Linked DNA regions of Homo sapiens: regions 1 and 2 are each linked to region 3. The links come from fine-mapping of genetic effects on gene expression. A gene starts in region 3. Each other region holds a variant in brackets. All regions are shown on one strand. Distances are from middle to middle. Region 1 has its middle 43 kb from the start of IREB2. Region 2 has its middle 32 kb from the start of CRABP1. Region 3 holds the start of CRABP1 (cellular retinoic acid binding protein 1).

Evidence for each region.
Region 1: its variant is fine-mapped to the expression of CRABP1 in tibial nerve (GTEx, PIP above 0.99).
Region 2: its variant is fine-mapped to the expression of CRABP1 in tibial nerve (GTEx, PIP above 0.99).

The regions. Positions count from the first base shown.
Region 1 is chr15:78,393,778-78,396,535 of GRCh38, reverse strand. No RefSeq gene overlaps it. Among named protein-coding and RNA genes, the nearest start is that of IREB2, 43 kb to the left of the region's middle. RefSeq lists an enhancer at 459-959. The variant G/A (reference allele first, on the strand shown) is at 1,179.
Region 2 is chr15:78,370,492-78,373,249 of GRCh38, reverse strand. No RefSeq gene overlaps it. Among named protein-coding and RNA genes, the nearest start is that of CRABP1, 32 kb to the right of the region's middle. The variant T/C (reference allele first, on the strand shown) is at 1,587.
Region 3 is chr15:78,338,707-78,341,464 of GRCh38, reverse strand. CRABP1 (cellular retinoic acid binding protein 1) reads right to left here and starts at 1,112. Exons shown (of 4, transcript NM_004378.3): 1 at 967-1,112; 2 at 244-422. The coding sequence starts at 1,036. RefSeq lists an enhancer at 934-1,562.

The DNA.
Region 1 (2,758 bases), 55 kb before region 3:
AAGTGAGAGGATGTGGTGAAGCACCCAGCACAGTGTCCAGTACGCAGGGGTCTTACTGGTTACCCCCATCCAACCCCAGCACCCTCCAAGGGGCTGGGCTTCACACGGCTCAGCTCTTCAGACAATAAATGAGTGATTTGGGCCGGGCACAGTAGTTCACACCTGTAATTCCAGCAGTTTGAGGGGCCAAGGCAGGTGGATCACTTGAGGTCGGGAGTTCGAGACCAGGCTGGCCAACATGACGAAACCCCATCTCCACTAAAAATGCAAAAATTAGCCAGGTGTGGTGGTGCATGCCTGCAGTCCCAGCTACTCAGGAGGCTGAAGCAGGAGAACTGCTTGAACCTGGGAGGCAGAGGTTGCATTGAGCTGAGATCCCGCCACTGTGCTCTAGCCTGGGCAACAGGGTGAGACTCTGTCTCAAAAAAAAAGAAAAAGAAAAGAAAGAAAGAAATGAGTGGATGGGATTCTAGGCTGGTTTGGTTCCTTCCTGGCTCTAACTTGAGTGAGAATAGCAGAGTGGACTAACAGATGGTACCAGGGAGAGGACCTGAAACCTAGGCCTGGTTGAGCACCCCTCCCAGCCTGTGTGATCCCAGGGAACCCACCTTCCCTCTCTCTGCCTTGGTGGTGTCATCTGTAAATGAGACCACTCAGTTGTAAAACCCAAGTTCTTTCCAGCTCCACGATTTGAAAATAGCTACTAATAAAATCAATAAACATGTCCAATTTTTGACAATTTTTGTCAGTGAAAAAAAAATTGAATAAACACATGCTGGCTGGTGGCTGGGACTTGTGTGACCATGTGGGGTTGCTAGGGTAGGTTCTGGACCCTCCTCAATCCCTGCTCTTGGTGAATGCTGAAAACAAGGACATAGTTCCTCCAACCCTAGGCCACGCTTCCGTGATCCCGTCTCCATCGCGGAATTCCTAAGCCCTTGACTTCTAAACCGTGCTGTTATGGTGTCTGTGTTTTTCCTCTTTCTCATCCAAGAGCTGCTTCCTGGTGAGTCGGACATGTTGAGCCACATGTGGTAGAGCAGTGAAAGGTTCCAAAACCTGTAGGTGGTCCCTCCCCAGTGGGCTTGTAATCGCTTCCCGGATTCCAAAGCCTCATTATGTGAAATCCAAGCTGGAAGCCCCATCCAGGGTTTGCCTCTCCCATCTCAGCTGTCAGC[G/A]GGTGCTTGAATTGTTTAGAACTGTTTGGAGGGAGGTGGGAGGACTGAGGCTCAAGAAGGTCTGTTTGCATACTGCCCCTCCCATCTTCCCCTTGTTAATGTTGGCCCTGGTGGAGTCTCCTTTAGAGCCGCGGTCTCATCCTCTGGTGTCCCTGCTGTGGGTCTGCCAGCCTCACTTGGGCTCAGAGGCGGAGCATTTGTCCTGGACCTAACCCTCTCACTGGGGTGGGGGCTGTGGGGCAAAAGGCGGGGCTCTCAGGGAACAACTATTTTCCTACTTGTTCGCGTTATCAGAATTAAACTTGAAATGAATCTAGACATCTTGTTGTACCATTCCTTCCTTAATGCCTTCCATAAAGAGGGACTGAACACCTCCTACAACCCAGAACAGGTACTATGGGAAGCTTCAAAGAAGTATCACATACTAACCCTGCCCTTTAGGAATGAATAATGTAGAGACAGGTAGGAGGTAGTCAGCTCTTCATTTATTAATGTAGAGACAGGTAGGAGGTAGTCATCTCTCCATTTATTCTTTTTTTTTTTTTTTTTTTTTTTTGAGACAGAACCTCACTCTGTCACCCAGGCTGGAGTGCAGTGATGCAATCTTGGCTCACTGCAACCTCCACCTTTCGAGTTCAAGCAATTCTTGTGTCTCAGCCTCCCGAGGAGCTGGGACTTCAGGCGTGCACCACTATGCCCAGCTAATTTCTGTATTTTCAGTGGAGATGAGGTTTCATCATGTTGGCCAGGCTGGCTCGAACTTCTGACCTCAAGTGATCAGCCTACTTTGGTCTCCCAAAGTACTGGGATTACAGGCGTGAGCCACCAGGCCCAGCCTCCATTTATTCTTTTATGTATTGGGTCAATAATCTGTCATTGAGCCCTGCTTTGTCTCTTAGCTCTCAGGTATAAATGGATGTTTTTTGAGGGAAGAGGGAGGACTGAGGCTGAAGAGATTCTGATTATATATGTCCACTCCCTTCTTGGGGCTAGTGCAAACAGGGGATATTGAGTTGGGAAAATGTAGCCCTTAACCTGGGGTTGCACCAAGCCTAGCACACAAACAACTAGATATGAGGCAGACTCTTTTAAGTGCCTTTATAAGGCAGAAAAAGTGAACTGGGAGTGTGTAGGAGGCAAAGATCACTCCCAACTGGGGAACCCAAGGCGGCTTCCTGGAGTAGCTGTGCCTGTAAGAATGAGGATAGAATCCCTTCAACTAGAGATGGAAAGGAGAGAATTGCAGGTACTTATAGATAACGGCAATGTGTAAGAAAACCCATGGAAGGGCTGGAAAAAGCAAGATGTGCTCAGGGAACAAGTTCGTTAGAAATTAAGCAGGAGAGATTATCCTCCTCTACTGAATAGCTGTATGGTCTTGGCCAAGTCACTTAAACTCTCTGGGCTTTACTGCTTTGTGTATACAATGGGGAAAAGGCAGACAGCTCCTGTGAAGTCCCTTTTCTTCCTTCCTTCCTTCCTTCTTTCCTTCCTCAATGAACAAGACTAAGTCCCCGCCCTCATGGAATTGGGAGGAAGAAAATAACAAATAGGACAGGCCGGGCACAGCAGCTCATGCC
Region 2 (2,758 bases), 32 kb before region 3:
GAGAATTGCTTGAACCTGGGAGGCAGAGGGTGCAGTGAGCCGAGATCGCACCACTGCCCTCCAGCCTGGGCAACATACCAAGATTCTGTCTCAAAAAAAGAAAAAATTGAACTCTGACCTGACTCCAAGATTGGCATTCTCAGATCCCATGCTCCGCCCCTGGATGGCTTGGCTAGGAGTGTCTGAGGGGCGGGGCTGGCAAAGCAGTGCCTCCTATATGAGGGAGAGGGAGAAGACCTGATAGGGTGATGGCCTCTCTGGGACCTGGTCCAGCACTTGGAAGCCTGAGAGGAAGGGGGTCTCTCTTCCCAAACACCCTATGGCAACATGCCACAGGCCCTTCTCCACCCCTGCCTCTGCTGGTCTCAAAACTTGCAGTGCATTTCAAAGGGGATAAACCTGAAGGGCTTCTATTCAGGTGAGAGAAAGGCAGGATCCAAATGAAAGTCAGGTTGCACCCAGAGATGTTCAAAGCTCTTGTCATGGGGCATGGGGACTCTTCCCTCCATGCCCTGTAGGCCCATCCAGTCCCTTCTCCACAAGCTAAACATGCCCATCTGTGTCCCCAAACCAGCAAGAGTTGTTGGTTTTCAACTGGATAAAGTCCAGATCCCTTAGCTTGGCATTCAAGCTACTCTGGGATCCCATTTTTGACTATTTGTCCTACCTCATTCTCTCACTAAGCAAGCTCTTTGCATCATCAAGTTAGGCTGCTCACCATTCCTCTAAACATGTTTGCTGCTTTCCTGCCTCTAAGGCTTTGCCCATGCCTTCCCCCCTAGAGTGCTTTTCATTCCCATGTTCTCCTATTGAAATCTTACCATACTGGACATGCACAGTGGCTCACGCCTGTAATCCCAGCACTTTGGGGGGCTGAGGTGGGCAGATGACTTGAGGTCAGGAGTTTGAGACCAGCCTGGCCAACATGGCGAAACTGTCTCTACTAAAAATACAAAAATTAGCTGTGTTTGGTGGCACGCACCTGTAATCCCAACTACTCAGGAGGCTGAATCAGAAGAATTGCTTGAACCCAGGAGGTGGAGGTTGTAGTGAACTGAGATCGCGCCACTGCACTCCAGCCTGGGCAACAGAGTGAGAGGCTGTCTCAAAAAAACAAAACAAAAAAAAACAACAAAAAAAAAGGAAAGAAATATTACCATTCTTTTAAGCCCAGGTCCACTGGCACCTTCCCCTTTTCCCCTTCCATAGATTTTTTTTTTTTCTCTCTTAAATCCCAGGGCACTTCACTTTGTACAGACCTGCTGGCTCATGTGTGGATTATCTGTGTCTGTGCCCTTCTCCTAGATACCACAAGTGAGGGCAGCAGCAGTGTCCTATTCATCACCATAGCCCCCCGAGGGCCCTGTGCTCAGTAGGTGCTCTAGGAATGTCTATCAGACTAATAAAGGCATGAATGGACTCCTAAAATCAGTGGGAAGCATTTCTGATCCAAGGGAACCTGCATTTTAACAGGGACCACCACTTGCCCTAACGCAGAGAAATTATCCAAAACTAGGAAATAAAGCAAAAGGAGTATTATGTGCCCTTTAAAAGTCTCCTTAGAGTATGTCTGACTTACTATTTAC[T/C]GTTGATTAGTGGCCAGACTTTGTAAAAACTGATGTTAACTGTAGAAAATTGATGTTGCAATTAATTTCTATATACTTCAAAAAAATAACCCTGAAGGTTGTGATTTGGTTGTCCTGCAGGACATTAACCAGTTTTGTATGTTACTTAGCTATCTTAAGTAACCAGCATTCTTACTTGCCATCTTAAGTAGCCAGCATTCTTTTTTCACTGACCTTACTTCAATTTCTAATATCTTCCTTTGAACCAGCTTTGCCATTCTGCTGGGTTCCCTCATTCATGAGTTAAAAAAATCTTTCACTTGTGTTCACTATATGTTTGTGTAAGAGTTATGTCTTTTAAATTTTTGAAAATTATGCTTTGACACAACTTTGGGCACATTAAAATCATCTGTGAAGCACTTAAAAGATATAGAATACCAGCAATTTGGGAGGCCAAAGCAGGCAGATCACTTGAGCCCAGGAGTTCGAGATCAGCGTGGGCAACATGGAAAAACCTGTCTCTACAGAAAATAAAAATAAAAAAATTAGCCAGGCATGGTGGCACACACCTGTGGTCCCAGGTACTCAGGAGGCCAAAGCAGGAGGATTGCTTGAGCCTGGGAGGTTAAGGCCGCAGTGAGCCACGATCATGCCACTGCACTACAGCCTGGGTGACAGAAGAAGACCCTTTCTCAAAAACAAAAACGAAGAAAGATACAGAAACCCAGGTTCTACCTCTGGGATTTTGACCCAGAAACTTCTGGATGGGACTTTGCTGCCTGTATTTTTAGTACTCTCAGAGAATTCTAATTAATAATCAGAGCTGAGAACCTCTCTACTGAAGGGCAACAGCCTTTACTAGGCTTTTTTGTTACCACAAACAAGCACTCGTTAAATGTTTGCCATTATTGCCTGGCACAGTGCATGCACCTCTAATCCTAGTTACCTGGGAGGCTGCAGCGGGATGATTACTTGAGCCAGGAGTTCAAGTCTGTGGTACAATATGATTGTGTTTGAGAATAGCCACTGCACTCTAGCCCGGGCAACATGGTGATACTCCATCTCAAAAAAAAAAAAAAAAAAAAAGCCTTTGTTATTGTTAGCTCTGGTGATGGAACTTCAGACACAGGGATGAAGATTTGGTGTACTGGTACTCTGGGTGTTCCTGAAATCATACCAGCTTCACATTGGGC
Region 3 (2,758 bases):
GCGCGGCTGTTAGCACCCCGGGAGGCAGCGTAGGGATGGGGTTGAGATGGAATGAAGGTAATACTTTGTCTTGAGCCAGGGGCAACTAGGATGCACAAACCCCCTCTGCAAACAGCCAGTGTACACACCCTGCAAGGAAGGCGCGCCACAGGCTGCAAAGGGAGACACAGGTTCCTCCAGCAGCAGTGGGCCATGGGCACCGAGCGGGGACACGGGGACGCTGTAGTGGCTCTGGGGCCTCACCCTGCACTTGCGTCCGTCCACGGTCTCCTCCTCAAAGCCTTCTCCGACCTTGAAGTTGATCTCAGTGGTGCGCACCGTGGTGGATGTCTTGATGTAGAACTGATCCCCGTCCTGGCGGATCTCCACGTGCGGCTTGGACGCAGCCGCTACGGCCACTTTCCTCAGCATGGCGTTCACACCTGCGCAGGGTGCACCACAGGCTTGGGTCACGGGGCCTCGCCGCCAGTCTCGGGACCGGTCGGGCACTGGTCATACCCTAACTTTAGAAAGGGGCCTTAAAATTGATCCACTCGTTTCCCTGCCCTCGCCCTTGTTTTCGAGATGAGAGACTGAGGCACAGAGAGGGTAAGTGACTTTCCTCGAGTTGCACAGTGAATTCGTGGCAGAGCCTGGTCCCAAATTTGAGTCTCCAAATTTAAGTCCCTGATCCTCCTTGCTCTCCAGTAATCTCTCCTCGCTATGATCTAGCACGAGATAAAGTCCGCACCATCGAGGAGGGCGCCAAACATTCAGCAAACGTTCGCTGAACGCGTGGGTTCCGGGATCTCTACCAGCTTCTCCGAGACCCGGTGCGCCTGGGAGACAAGGCGATCTATTGCCCCGGGGACTCCCTCCTGCCTGGGCTCCCCAACTTCCACCCCCTCCAGGACCGGGGCACTTCCGGGACCAGGGCACCTCCGGGCCGCATCTCCCCGTCGGGGCGCGCCCTCTGCACCAGCTTACCCAGTGCCTTGAGCAGCTCGTCGAAATTCTCGCTGCTGCGCATCTTCCAGGTGCCGGCGAAGTTGGGCATGGTGGCGGTGGCGGCGGCGGCAGGTACGGACAGCGGCGGCGCAGCGGGCACACTCTGAGCTCGCAAGGCGGAGACTGGCGCTTTGCGCCCAGCGCTGCGCGCCTTGAGTCACTAGGAGAGCGCCCCCAACCCCGCCGGGCTTCTGGCCCCGCCCCGCCGGCCCTGCCCCCGCTCCCCCGCAGCCCCTACTCGGTATGCGCTCAACTCCCAGCCCAGTTGTGCCTCAGCCTCCAGAGGTGCGGGCACCCGCTCTCCAACTGGGGAGCCTCCACCTCCCTCAGGACACCCACATCCCGCTTTAAAATGGGTGGTGGGAGAGGGTTAGCTGAAACAAGATGGGCTTGGAGGGGATAACTGTTGAAGCTGGGCGGTGTGGACTTGGGTTATGATTCTACTTTTCTCTCTACTTTTGAATATGTTTGAAAATATCCATAACATAAACTTAAAGTGGATAGCGAGCGGGGCCATCAGGGGATGGGACCCACTCTTTTTTCACCTCCGGTCGTACCTACTGGGTGTGCCCAGATGGTGTCCCTTCCCTCCCAGTCCGGGATCCTATTCTGAAACCCTCTCCCCGCATCCCCACGCCCCCCACAGGACCCATGGGGAGTGAGTGGCAGGAAACCGCAACCCCCATCAACACCAGCTTGGGCACTGAGGCGCGAATCCACGAGCTGCGGGTCCTCCGCGTTCCGAGTGCAGGAGGGGGCCAGACCTTTGTCAGGGCTCAGGACAAACTGTGGGTCGAGAGGCATGGACTGAATCAGCTCCAGAATCTGGGCTAGGTGCGGCCTGTTTTGCAAAAGCGTGAGGCTTTGCACTCTTCGGGCAGGCTGTGAGGGCCAAGGGGAGGAAGTCTTCTCCCTTTGCTCCCAAATAACCTAAACATCACGACCTAAAGTCCCCTCGGTGTTTCCACTAAGGGAGTACAAACACTTCACTATTACCCTTGTAGCTCTTCTCTGTACATTTTCCTTCCAGCTTTTTCCCACTATTTTACCATCTGCACACCTCAGCCAAACTGTACAATTCAGGATTCTAGAACGTGCCATGCATTTTATTATCTCTAAGTTTTTGCCCATGCCATGGCTTCTTCCTTGAATGCCCCTTTCCTCATCGGGTTAATCAAATCTTGCCCATTCACGAAAGCCCATCTTTATGCTCTCTCTTTTGTGAAATTCAGTTTCCTAATAAACTGTGATTATTTTTCTCTGAATTGACAGGATTCTTGTCCGGTCCTGCTCTTGTTCAAGTCTTCGCTCTGCTATAAACTGAACTCCTGGAGGGCAGTGATCGTTTATCCACTTGTCCTCCCTTCCTAAGGCTTAGCCAGGTGGGGCTCGATAACTGTGCATTGATTTGAGGAGGATGTGAGTGGTGGCCTGGGGTGAAGATTCCCCCAGGACCTTGGGGAATCTGTGCTGAGTGCCTACTGAACAGGGCCCTGGAAACTTCTGGAGGTGGCTGGGGCTGGGTTGCTGCCAGGAGGCTCCGAGGATCTGTCTAAGAAAGCAGCTGAGGACAGGAGAGGGGAGTGGGGCCATCACCAGCTGGAAAGGGGCATGGGCAGGGCCGGCATTCTGGACGTGCCGTCTGTGCAGTCACACAGGGCCATGCACTTAGAAGGGCCTGATAGTTAGATTGGAAAATGGAAAAGCAGGAATGCTCTGCTATTGCCAGCTTGAACGTCAGAATACTTTTTGTTTGTTTGTTTGTTTTGAG